Linked DNA regions of Homo sapiens: all the other regions are linked to region 2. Evidence: fine-mapped expression QTL. A gene starts in region 2. Each other region holds a variant in brackets. All regions are shown on one strand. Distances are between the middles of the regions.

Region 1 (4,214 bases), 480 kb after region 2:
GTAGTAATTATGTAATTGTGGTAATTATGTTTTTTTAATTAAAAAAGTATAATAATAAAAAACTTGAAAAGGCAAAATAAATTTTTTAAAGGAATAAAATGGGATCCATCCTTCAAGACTATCTTCTGGAGGAGCATGGGATTGCATACGCACTTTTATTGGCCACTTCTTAATGGTACTGCTGACCTGGCCATGCTCTATTCTTCCGGGCACTGGAAATCACAGAATGTTCTAGGTTCACTTGCTCGGCCCACCATCCACGCAGGAGGCTGAAATCATTTCTTAATGGTATCTGTATTAGTTCCTTAGCTAGTCATCCCAATTCCAAATACGCACAAGCGACACGGCACACTTCCTGAGACGGTCCTCGATTATCACTATGAGCACAACGACACCATGAAAGAGTAAAGCTTTGCTGTTGCACTGTCCCGTGACAAGTTCATTACTGCCCTGCAGAGACAACTCTCTTTTAGGAGGAAACAACTGCCCATTCTGCTCTATTGTCCCATAGATCTTTTACACCTCCATTTGGTATCATGAAATAAAGACTAATTCCAACCCTCTCAATACAGAATCTCCCATCCAAAAACATAACAACCCAAGAATGTGGACTGCTGTTTCCTGACCCCTGCACTGTGCCTGGCAGGTTCCGGCTACAGCCAGAGGCAGCCCTCATGCCTGCGTTTGGAACGCAGTAGCAATACTAAATCAGACAGACTGGCGAGGCCAGCAATTAAACCAGAAGTTGGTGAAGCAAACTTCCCAAAGTGAAGCAAGATGTTGATGTGGAAGATCAGCTGCTTGTGAGATGAGCTGACGATTTTCCTGGACTCTTTGTTAGATTTCATGTCTGGATCTCGTCTGGAACATCTACCAGATGGATTAGGGCCCGAATGTCTGGCGTTCTTCTGATAGCTCCAGCCTTGTAACTGTCCCATTGTCATGGCAGAAGGAACCTCACTGCTAGCCTTGATTTCAGTATGACCGATTCTCCTTCATTATCTGAGCTTGTGCACTATAGACAACTCCACGTGGAGTCTTTGCATGGCCAACAGAGAAGTTGACAGCCCCTAAGATACCTGCCCTGGTCACTGCTGCCCTTGGGTAACAAGTTGGCCTTCTGGCTGATAGTCAGGGAAGTCTAGGGCTGGCCTGGCCTAAGTGACTCAGTCAGCAGACCCTGGAGTGCCCTTCTTGGTCCCTCCCCAGGTGTAAGGATGATGCACAAGGCCCCTGGGCTGCTCTGTAGGTAAGGGCAAATGGGCCTCTGCAAAGGGAGCTGCTAGTGTATTTCCCTTCTCCCGCTCGAAGACACAAGTATCAAAACATCCTGCTGCTGGCAGGATGGCCAGCGACCTCCAAGACACCATTTGCCTGAGGATGAATAACTCAAACTCAGAGTTTAGGTGTCGCTGACTCTCCCCAGGAGAACCAAGACTGTGCTTACAAGAGCAGAGCTGACTCGGGAGTCCCTGTTCCTAACATATCCTCAGCTCCCTTGGCCATTCTTGGGAATGTAAGCCACAGGGAGATTTCTCTTTGTGCCAGCAGAGTCTGAGCGGGGTGAGAAGGGCAGGCTCTGGACTGGGGTCTGCATTTGAGTCTCCCTCTGCCACTTCCCACCTGGGTGACTATGGCAATTGTTTCATCTCCCCAAGCCTTGTGCCCCCTTTTGTAAGATGAGATGAACACCTACCTCGTGGAATTGAGGATTAAATGAATAATGAGAGAAGAAGCAATGTTCAGAGTAAACCCTGAACAAATATTATCTAACACTGCAATTAGTTTGACCAAGTCCAAATTTTTTCTTAAAGTTTAACAGAAAGTATTTCTCAAGCCAAAACTCTGTGCCAAAAGGCACAGGACAATTTCACAATGATCGGCAGTTTAGTTGCCAGCGTAGAGGCTGTGAACCTCTAAATGCTTTTATCAACATGACATTTGGAAAGCTGAAGAACAGCAAAGAGCTGGGGACTGGGAAAACACCACCTTCACCGGCATCAGAGGCCACTCTCTTTATCTGCGCTGGGGGCCAGGACAAGGTTGGCCACGACAAGATACCAGCGTATTACAACGTCTGGAACCGCACTGTGCCTCCTTACCTTTGCTCTCCTTGCCTGACCTGGATTTTGCGCTGACTGCCTTTAAAGACAAGCTCACGGAACCCTTTTTCCCGATGCTGACACCTATCCTGACACAGTCTGCTGTCTACCAAGCTACCGGGATGCTTTATCCAGAGGCCTATGGCGCCCACCTTGGTTAGGTCCTGACGTTCCAGGCCCACCTAACAATTCACCCCTGCTCATCAAGGGGAAAGAGAACTCTTCACAAAACTTTTTCAGATTTTGAGATAGGTGAATTCATAATAATTAAGTAACAATATTTTACTAAGATTAGATTCGAAACACACATTGAATG[C/T]ACTTCTTGGAAACATCACATGTTCTTCTGTTTTGTGAGGTCAGGGTGCCTTCCTGCTCTAGACTTCCCATGTATTTAATCAAACACAAGTCTAAAAATAATAAAATTAGTTTCCTGAAGCTGAAAATGCTGTTTTGAAGAGGAAGAGTTGATATTAAATTTATAACTAGACAACAGGGACATGAGACATGGGTTTGTGTTTCAGCAACATCTTTCTGATAGGAAAAATAAACAGGAGACTTCATGTTCCACAATATAAAATACCTGTGTTTCCCACCAAAATGTCATCTCGGACAAGGCAGGCAAGGAACAGTCTTTTCAATTAGTGGTACTAGGACAACTGGATATCCATATGCAAGAAAATGAATTTAGACCCCTACTTCGCATCATACACAAAAATTAACTCAGAGGGGATCACAGACCTAAACGTAAGACTGAAAATATAAAACTCTTAGAAGCAGTTTGGGAGGACAAGGCAGGCGGACCACCTGAGGTCCAGGAGTTCAAGACCAGCCTGGCCAACACGGGAAAACCCTGTCTCTACTAAAAATACAAAAAATTAGGTGGGCGTGGTGGTGGGTGCCTATATTCCCAGCTACTCGGGAGGCTGAGGCAGGAGAATCGCTTGAATCCGGGAGGCGGAGGCTGCAGTGAGCCGAGATCATGCCATTGCACTCCAGCCTGGGGCGTCAGAGCAAGACTCTTCTCAAAAACAAACAAAACAAAAAAGTAAATATTTGTGATCCTGGGTTAGGCAATGATTTCATAGGTATGATACCAAAAGTACAAGTGATAAAAAATGACTACATCAAAGTTGAAATTTTTTATGCTTCGGAAGATACCATCAAGAAAGTGAAAAGGTTCCCACAGTGGGAAATGATATTTGCCAATCATCTATCTGGTAAGTGACTTTTACCCAGAATACATGAAGAATCCTTACAAGTCTGTACACCATATATTTCAAAACAGCTAAAAGAGGAAGGAAAAAAGGAATGACTGAATGATTGACTGATTAACAGGGTCTCACTGTGAAGTGCTGGACTGCAGTGCTACAATCAGTGCTCACTGCCGCCTTGACCTCCCGGGCTCAGGGCATCCTCCCACCTCAGCCTCCCAAGTGGCTGGGACTACAGGTGCACACCACCATGCCCAGCTAATTTTCTGTAGATACAGGGTTTCACCATGTTGCCCAGGCTAGTCTCAAACTCCTGGGCTCAAGTGATCTGCCCACCTCAGCCTCCCAAAGGGCTGGGACTGCAGGCGTGAGCCACTGCACTCGGCCAAACAGACGATTTTAAATTTTCTCACCACAAGGAAATTATAAATATTTGAGATGACAGATATGCTAACTAGCCTGATTTGATCATTCCACAATGTAACATGTACTGAAACATACTGCACCCCATAAATACATACAATTATGGTTTGTCATTTAAAAATAAAATTCTTGGGAAGAATCCAACACCACCTCTCAGCAAAAAAAATTATTCCAACTCAATAAAAACCAAACACAATTTTTGAATGGGCAAATGATCTAAATAGACATTTTTCCAAAGCAGAAATATGTGTGGTCAATAAGCATGGGAAAATATGTTCAACATCAGCCATTAGAGAAAGGCAAATCAAAACCACAATAAGATACTACTTCACACCCACCAGAATGACTATAATCAAAAAGATGGGTGTTGGCAAGAATGCAGAGAAAACAGAATCTTCCTACACTGCTGACAGGAATGTAAAACGGTGTAGACACTCCCCATAGGAAAAGCGTTTGGCAGTGTCTCAAAATATTCAAC
Region 2 (4,214 bases):
GTATCTCCAGCCCCATTAGGTCTAAAATAAAATGTGCTCGAAAGAAGAAAAAAGGTTTCAGAATTTCAGTGTGGAGAAAACAGGAAAAGGAGAAGTTCCCTGCAGAGAAAGAAATGCGCTAACCCTCCCTCTTTGGGGGCCAGGGTTGGGAACTAAAGGTACTCCCACCTGCATTCCAATTCTGGCTAAATAGGGGAGTCCTTGGCTGCTACAGCAGGCCTCTCCTGACGGCCTGGCAGGGTTAAGAAGGGCGGCAAGGGCACCCACCCTGCAGTGAGTTCCCCGTGTTCCTTGAAACGGAGCGGGGCAGGGCCCCTGAGGGGTGTCTTACTTTGCAGCCATACTGCAGCGCCAGCTTGTTGAGGCTGTCCTCCTGGGCCAGCTCCCGCTGCAGCAGCACCACGTCACCTGCTCCCGCCTGGGGAGGCTGGTGGACACCGCTCTTGTGGCGCTCCTTGCCCCGGGGCCGCAAAACCACACGGTGAGACTCTTCTTCAGAAGAGTCCCCCGAGTCCCCACTGCCATTCTTAAACATGTATACGTGGCTGGTCGGAGTCCCACACACAACAGCTGGGCCTTGGAAGGTCTTGGTTAACAATTCCTCGTGCCTCATTTTCTTCACTGAAAATCAAGCCGGAGGGTTAATTCCACAGAAGACATAATCATCCCTCCACCGCCTCGTTTAAAGAGAAGTGTCTTGTTAGAGAGTATTCCTTTTCCTAATCGCTGCAAATACTCAGCATACATCATCAACAGAAAAAAAAGAATGTGCTTATGCTGGCTGAGATGGAAGAAGATAGGCAGAATAAAAACCCTTTGTTTTTTCTAATCGCATACGTTTTGTGCAGAAAACGAACCCCGCCCCTGTTCCTCATCCATAGCTGTCTCCCCTAAACCCACATCTGTAAAGAAACAACTACTTTTGCTCTCAGAGTAGTAAGTTGAGATCCTTGCAATGGCAAGTAAGGGCTGCCGCCAGCCTCCGCGCACTCAGAATCTTCAACTCAGAAGCTTTGCACAATAATTTTGTATTCAATATTTTACACATTGCAAAGTATCTTCACTAAGAAGGTCAGCGCTAAGGACTCTTGCTCAGAACTGTGGGGCTAAACTGCTCTTACTTTGACACAGTTTAACTCACAGTATGTGGGGCAAGCTACGGGGAGAACTCATGCCTGTCAGCCGGAGAAAAGCGTCCAGTTTGCTCACGGGTCACTTTGCATTCATTACATCCCCATTGTCTGGTTTTTATTTTCCCCTTGAGTCAACAGCCAAAGCCGCAAGACCCCTGTTCCTCTCTCCAGATTGTTCGCGTGAGATTCCAGAAACGAAATCTCAAACACGCGGGCTGACAACTTCAGAAAAAGGTGGCTTCGGAGCCACAGGGGAGCAGCCCGTACGGGGACAGCCTGCGGCCCCAGCTCGACCCCCTACTCCCCGCCCACGCCTTCGAGGGTCACAGGCCCACACCCCGCTCCGCGCGCTCCTGAGCCTGCCCGGAGGCGGGAGGCGGCCGGCGGTCCTCGGGGGGTTGAGGGTCACCTGCAGGACCACGGCGGCAGCCCGGGGACGGGGCCAGCCTTCGCGTCCGAGCTCAGGGGCGGCGGCAGCAGCTCCAGGCCCGCTTCCCTCCAAGTCCCTTCTGCGAAAAGATGGGGCACCTCAACAAGAGCTGACAGGAAAATGGGGAGCGGCCCGGCCCCAGGGCTCCACGGCTCCACGGGCGGGGCCCTAACATTCCAGAGGGCAGAACCTCTGACCTCTGACCCCCAACCCTAGCCACCTGGGGCCAGCCCACGACAGTCGCGGTCACCGCCCCTCCAGCTGGAGCGTCCCCCTAGGAGCCCGGGGAGGGGCGGCCCGCCCGCGAACCCTCGAGCGAGGCCAGGTCGCCGTACCGCCATGAGCCCGCGCGGCTCCCTAGCCAGACCGCGGCCCCCTCGTCCAGGCCCCGGTACCTCAGCGCCCAGGCTCCGCCGCGACCGGCGACCGGCGACTCGCGACCCGCGACCCGCGACCCGCAGCTGCCACCGCGCCTGCGGATTGGCTACGAACATCAGCAGGGCCCCCCTGGGGGCGGGACTGGGGAGGCAGCCAATGAAGTCAGCGCTGGGCGGGCACTGGAGCGAGCCTGGCTGCGCGGAGAGCTCATCCCGGGACCACAGGGCCCGGGGCGGGGCTCGGGGCGGGGCTCGGGGCGGGGCTCGACAGGGTTCCACACCCCGGAAGTGGCCCTCGCCCCGCCCACCCGCCTACCAGGTCTACCCGCGCGGGCCCTGGCTTGTTTTCGCGTCTGTTCGGAGTAATAAGGCACCTCAGCTCCTCCCTCCCAAAGTGCTTGGCTTTCTGCTGAGCCGCAGCTTTCTCGCCCGTAAAGAGGCCTTTGACCCCACTTGTGGGTAATGATCTGTAGCTGTGACTCGGGGTGGATTCCAGTAGCGTGGGGTCCCCTGAGCCCTCCTGCGGGGAAGGGCTGGGCGCAGATGGGCGAGGGGTCTTTCTGCGGCGGGATCTGCGCTCCTGGGCCTTTGAGGGCCGCACCAGGGGAGGCATTGCCCCACCCCGAGAAGAAAACAGAAATCCACGAGTGTAAAACATGGATGCGGACAACAGGGACCAAGAAAACTTAAGTCGTGTTTATCAAATGTCAGGTGGCCGAGGATTTCTTAAGATGAAAAGTGGTGGAAGAATTCTCACACACTGGCCGGGCGCGGTGGCTCACGCCCGTAATCCCAGCACTTTGGGAGGCCGAGGCTGGTGGATCACGAGGTCAGGAGTTCGAGACCAGCCTGGCCAAGATGGTGAAACCCCGTCTCTACTAAAAAAATAAAAATAAAAAAAAATAAAAAAGTTAGCCGGGCATGGTGGCGGGCGCCTGTAATCCCAGCTACTCAGGAGGCTGAGACAGAGGATTGCTTGAACCCGGAGGCGGAGGTTGCAGTGAGCCGAGATCGTGCCACTGCACTCCAGCCTGGGCAACAGAGGGAGACTCCATCTCAAAAAAAAACAAAAACAAAAACCTCACACACTAAGGCACAAAGTTCAGAGCTTCTACTTAAAAAGGAAAACCAAAATTAAAAAGCAGATAACCTAGGGAAAATAAACTGAACACAACAAAGGATTAAAATCCTTCGCTGAGAGAGACTTCATATGAATAGGAAAGATGCTAAGACCTCAGCAGGTCTGAGGGAGACCTCAGAGAGACAGGAGCAGATAATTCAGCAAACAATGCAAATGGTCAACAGGTTGAAAATGTTTTTAACCCTCACTTGCAATCAGATTAAACAACAAAGCAAACATTAAAACAAGATCTCACAAACCTTTTCCCACTAATAGGATTTGACTGTGTCCACACCCAAAACTCATCTTGAATTGTAGCTCCCACAGTTTCCACCTGTTGTGGGAGGGACCTGGTGGGAGGTGATTGAATCATGGGAGCAGGTGTTTTCTGTGCTGTTCTCCAGATAGCGAATGAGTCTCACTAGATTTGATGGTTTTATAAAGGGAAGTTGCCCTGCACAAGTTCTTTTCTTCTATCTGCTGCCATGTGAGATGCACCTTTCACCTTCAGCCATTATTGTGAGGCCTCCCCAGCCAGGTGGAACTGTGAGTCCATTAAACCTCTTTCTTTTGCCCAGTCTCGGGTATGTGTTTATCAGCAGGATGAAAACGGACTAATACACCCACTTAAACTAAAAGTCAAATTGTTAATCTTCGTGGACAAAGCCCAAAATGGTCTGGACTCCAGGACTTACCCTCCCCTAACCCCCAGGGTTCTCAAGACTCTGGCCTTGGAATGAGAGTGACATCATCAGCTTCCCTGGTTCTGATGTTTTTGGACCTGCACTGAACCATATTATCTGCATCCCAGGGTCTCCAGCTTGCAGACCCACCTGTCCCGGGACTTTCAGTCTCCTTAATTGTGTGAGCCAAGTCTAATCTCCTCTCTCTCACTCACTCACTTTGTGTCTCTCTCTATAGGTAGAAATAGATATATAGATAGATAGACAGATATCTCCTATTGGTAGGTAGGTAGGTAGATAGATAGATAGATAGATAGATAGATAGATAGATAGATAGATTAGATAGCTCCTATCAGTTCTGTCTCTCTGGAGGACTTGACTCTGTATCTGTAGATAGGTAGATATCTCCTATCGGTTCTGTCTCTCTGGAGGACCTGACTCTGTATCTGTAGATAGATAGGTATCTCCTAT
Region 3 (4,214 bases), 20 kb before region 2:
TCATTCACAAAGAGAATGTTCCGTATGGGCAGGGTGTAAGGATATAAGCAAAGAGGATTTACAGTGGCGCCCAGATGAGGCCAGACATCCCTGACAGCCGGGAGAAAGAACAGGGCTTTTGTGGAACCAGGATGACAGCAGACCCATGGAGCAGTTGGAGGAGAGTGTCCCAAGAGAGGGGACAACATAGCAGACCCAGCTGGCCTCCATGAAGACTGGCTGCCTTGCCTGTGCTCTGGGCAGTAGGAATACCCCAGGCCCCTAGCCTCTGCCCAGGAAGTCCCCAGAGAGCCTGAGCTCAGCAGTCCCTTTCCCTCATCCATTCTGAAGTAACTGCACAGTGAGGATTGTTGTCAGTGGTCTTCTTAGGAATTATGTCATGGAAAAAGCAGCAGAGTATCTCAGGGAAATTTGCCTACACAGGATTTGGCCCTCAGGCCTGTCCTGAGCATCCTAAATGAATGCACTAAAAATAGTCCTGGAAAAGCAAGTGGAAAGGGCTCAGAGCCCAGGCCCGGGGAACAGCCTGTTTGCGTCCTCCTCTACTGCTCTCAGCCAGCCCCTCATTTCCTCATCTGGAAAATGGGGATGGTGCGACTTGCACCTTAGAGGTGTTGCGAGGATGAGCGATGTTGTGCCCTGTCACAGGGCCAGAGCAGATGGGGAGCAGATGCTGAGGAAGAAGAGGCGGTGAGCAGATGAGGCTGCTGTTCCTCTGTCTTTCTGGTCCCTGCACAGCATTAAGACACTGACATTGTTTTGTATACTTTAGCTGCAAAAGTACCAACGTTGTGGGTAACAGAACCAAGTAACGTAAGGGCTCAACGGTACTGTTTTCTTTCCTCCTAGGAAGATGGGATTTCCTTTTGTGCCAAGCACTGAAGGAAACGACCCAAACCAGTCTTGGGGAACTCTGATAAGATTTCAGACTCTGGGCCCTTTTCCATCAGGCAGTGTCTCTACTGTATCATCCCAGTTTTGCAGAGGTACTTGCAAGCCATCTGACCTCTCTCTTTTTTTTCCTTCAGTGCTGGAGGGCAGTTATCTCAGGGTTCCAATTTATCCATTAATACCAACCAAAACATCAGCATCAAGTCCGAACCGATTTCACCTCCTCGGGATCGTATGACCCCATCGGGCTTCCAGCAGCAGCAGCAGCAGCAGCAGCAGCAGCAGCCGCCGCCACCACCGCAGCCCCAGCCACAACCCCCGCAGCCCCAGCCCCGACAGGAAATGGGGCGCTCCCCTGTGGACAGTCTGAGCAGCTCTAGTAGCTCCTATGATGGCAGTGATCGGGAGGATCCACGGGGCGACTTCCATTCTCCAATTGTGCTTGGCCGACCCCCAAACACTGAGGACAGAGAAAGCCCTTCTGTAAAGCGAATGAGGATGGACGCGTGGGTGACCTAAGGCTTCCAAGCTGATGTTTGTACTTTTGTGTTACTGCAGTGACCTGCCCTACATATCTAAATCGGTAAATAAGGACATGAGTTAAATATATTTATATGTACATACATATATATATCCCTTTACATATATATGTATGTGGGTGTGAGTGTGTATGTGTGGGTGTGTGTTACATACACAGAATCAGGCACTTACCTGCAAACTCCTTGTAGGTCTGCAGATGTGTGTCCCATGGCAGACAAAGCACCCTGTAGGCACAGACAAGTCTGGCACTTCCTTGGACTACTTGTTTCGTAAAGATAACCAGTTTTTGCAGAGAAACGTGTACCCATATATAATTCTCCCACACTAGCTTGCAGAAACCTAGAGGGCCCCCTACTTGTTTTATTTAACTGTGCAGTGACTGTAGTTACTTAAGAGAAAATGCTTTGTAGAACAGAGCAGTAGAAAAGCAGGAACCAAGAAAGCAATACTGTACATAAAATGTCATTTATATTTTCCAACCTGGCATGGGTGTCTGTTGCAAAGGGGTGCATGGGAAAGGGCTGTTGATATTAAAAACAAACAAAACAAAAA[AG/A]CCCCACACATAACTGTTTTGCACGTGCAAAAATGTATTGGGTCAAGAAGTGATCTTTAGCTAATAAAGAAAGAGAATAGAAAACACGCATGAGATATTCAGAAAATACTAGCCTAGAAATATAGAGCATTAACAAAGTAAAATTAATATATTAAGTTATAATTGGAATATGTCAGAAGTTTCTTTTTACATTCATATCTTAAAAATTAAAGAAACTGATTTTAGCTCATGTATATTTTATATGAAAGAAAACACCCTTATGAATTGATGACTATATATAAAATTATATTCACTACTTTTGAACACATTCTGCTATGAATTATTTATATAAGCCAAAGCTATATGTTGTAACTTTTTTTTAGAGAATAGCTTTATCTTGGTTTAACTCTTTAGTTTTATTTTAAGAGGGGAAAACAAAAATATCTTGCAAGCAGAACCTTGGAAAAAAAAAGCCATGAACACTTATTCTAAATGTAAATTAAAAGTTGAGCCAAACTCTTTGTGTATATAGCATCTTAAATATATTATCACCTTTGATGTAAGTACCTATGTATTGTATGGTCACCAGATTAAAAAGTATATTTTTGTGGATTGCCGCCAATCTGGGGGGAAAAGGCGAGGTCCTTTATTAAGTATTCACTGTTTAATATTTACTATTTTGTTAAATATACTGTACTTTGGATTTTAATTATTAGCCCAGTTTTTTCAGAGGATTGTATAAAGGGGTTTCTCCCCTCACTGGTGGTGAATGTGTGATGTTACATTGTAATCTTTGTGCTGTATGGGTTGAGCATCATTATATATTTTGTATGTGTACATAAATAGCAAAGTGGCAAAAAAAATTGGTGTTAAGTTCATCCTGCATAAGTATAAAATGTGTTGTAACAGATTTTGTAAGGCATTATTTAAAACTTGCCTTTTGTGAGGAAAAAATGTAGTAGAAAAAGCTGACCTAATTTAATTAATATTAGAGAAAATGGCAAAATAGTAGATGAGCACAAAGGTTTTATAAGTGGTAAATGATTAGGGGAAAATAATCATGGGGAAAGGGATCTTTTTTCCTTGACCCTCTGAAAACAGAACGATGCAGCTGGTTACAAAATCCTACCGTTATCAGCTCTTCTGCACATTGCAGTGATGCTTTGGTATGCGGGGAGAAACACTCTTAGGGTGCTGGTCCTTGGCATGACTCTTGCCATTCTAATTGGAATTAGTGCCACCCTCAGCTTGGATTTTGAACAAGGCCTTATTCTTTCAGGAAGACAACTAATGGATGATAGCAAGTTCATCCACTTACTGGGCTTGTGCCATGAGCAAAATTCAAAGTCCTGTATATCTTTCATTGTAGATTTTTAAATACTCCTTTTCCTAAAAAACTCAAGGGTTTAAAAATTGCTATTTTATATTTTAAATGATATTGAGCAGCTACCTACAATTTCTATGTACATTTTGTTCCCCCCCCCCCACCCCCCCCCCAAATTACGTTCCTTTTGACATTTTCCTCATCTGCTGTTTGTGACAAGTCATCAGCCAGATTTCCTGACTGACACATAGGTATGATCAGTGCAGGAGAGACCTGCGCACCACAGGCTGCAAACTGGAGGTTCTGTTCTCATGGCAGTTTGGGCAGTAACTTTTGAGAGAGGCCAAAAAAAGGAGGATGACATGCTGTCTCCTCTCTTCAGTATAGACATTAGGCTCTTATTCAGAAAGGATTTTTCTTTAAAAATGTACTTACTTTACTGAACTACTTACAGGCACATTTCTTCATAAGGCCACACCTAATCCAAACAAGACAGTCTCCCAACACTGAAGTTCCAAAATAATCCTTACCACTTTGTAAACCATTTATAGCTTTGAAAGTGTTAAGTGATTCCTTCGTTATTATTTATGCATGTTCATGAACTTCTGCTGTACATTGGAATAGGAGTTAACACATTCACATTTACTGTCTATTTTCTTGTGTGCCTTATGAGATGGCTTTTCTGACTGTATCTCAATAGTCTTTCTTTCTATGCAGGTTTATAATCAGTACAACTACTGTTTTCTAAAATACTACTACTCAAGGCTCGGAGTTTGTATTTAAATTACACTGACCAAGTAACAATGTATTCCATTTCAGGAACTGAATATTTGACTGTTAACCTTTTTCCCATACGTCCAGTGTGGCATGGAGCATATGGACTTGACAGACATCTCTCACCCAGACGCCCACGTGTGAACACACCCA

What was found. PIP is the estimated chance that this variant, and not a neighbour inherited with it, causes the effect.
Region 1: its variant is the best candidate, but not a certain one, in a credible set for the expression of LYSMD4 in pancreas (GTEx, PIP 0.78).
Region 3: its variant is the best candidate, but not a certain one, in a credible set for the expression of LYSMD4 in lymphoblastoid cells (GTEx, PIP 0.53).

What each region holds. Positions count from the first base shown.
Region 1 is chr15:100,214,473-100,218,686 of GRCh38, forward strand. All of the region lies in intron 7 of ADAMTS17 (ADAM metallopeptidase with thrombospondin type 1 motif 17), which reads right to left. Among named protein-coding and RNA genes, the nearest start is that of ADAMTS17, 130 kb to the right of the region's middle. The variant C/T (reference allele first, on the strand shown) is at 2,419.
Region 2 is chr15:99,731,387-99,735,600 of GRCh38, forward strand. It overlaps LYSMD4 (LysM domain containing 4), which reads right to left and starts at 2,051. Exons shown (of 3, transcript NM_001284417.2): 1 at 1,959-2,051; 2 at 332-621. The coding sequence starts at 613. RefSeq lists silencers at 1,501-1,610, 1,651-2,380.
Region 3 is chr15:99,711,362-99,715,575 of GRCh38, forward strand. It overlaps MEF2A (myocyte enhancer factor 2A), which reads left to right. Exons shown (of 12, transcript NM_001319206.4): 12 at 1,029-4,214. The coding sequence ends at 1,410. Among named protein-coding and RNA genes, the nearest start is that of LYSMD4, 20 kb to the right of the region's middle. The variant AG/A (reference allele first, on the strand shown) is at 1,984.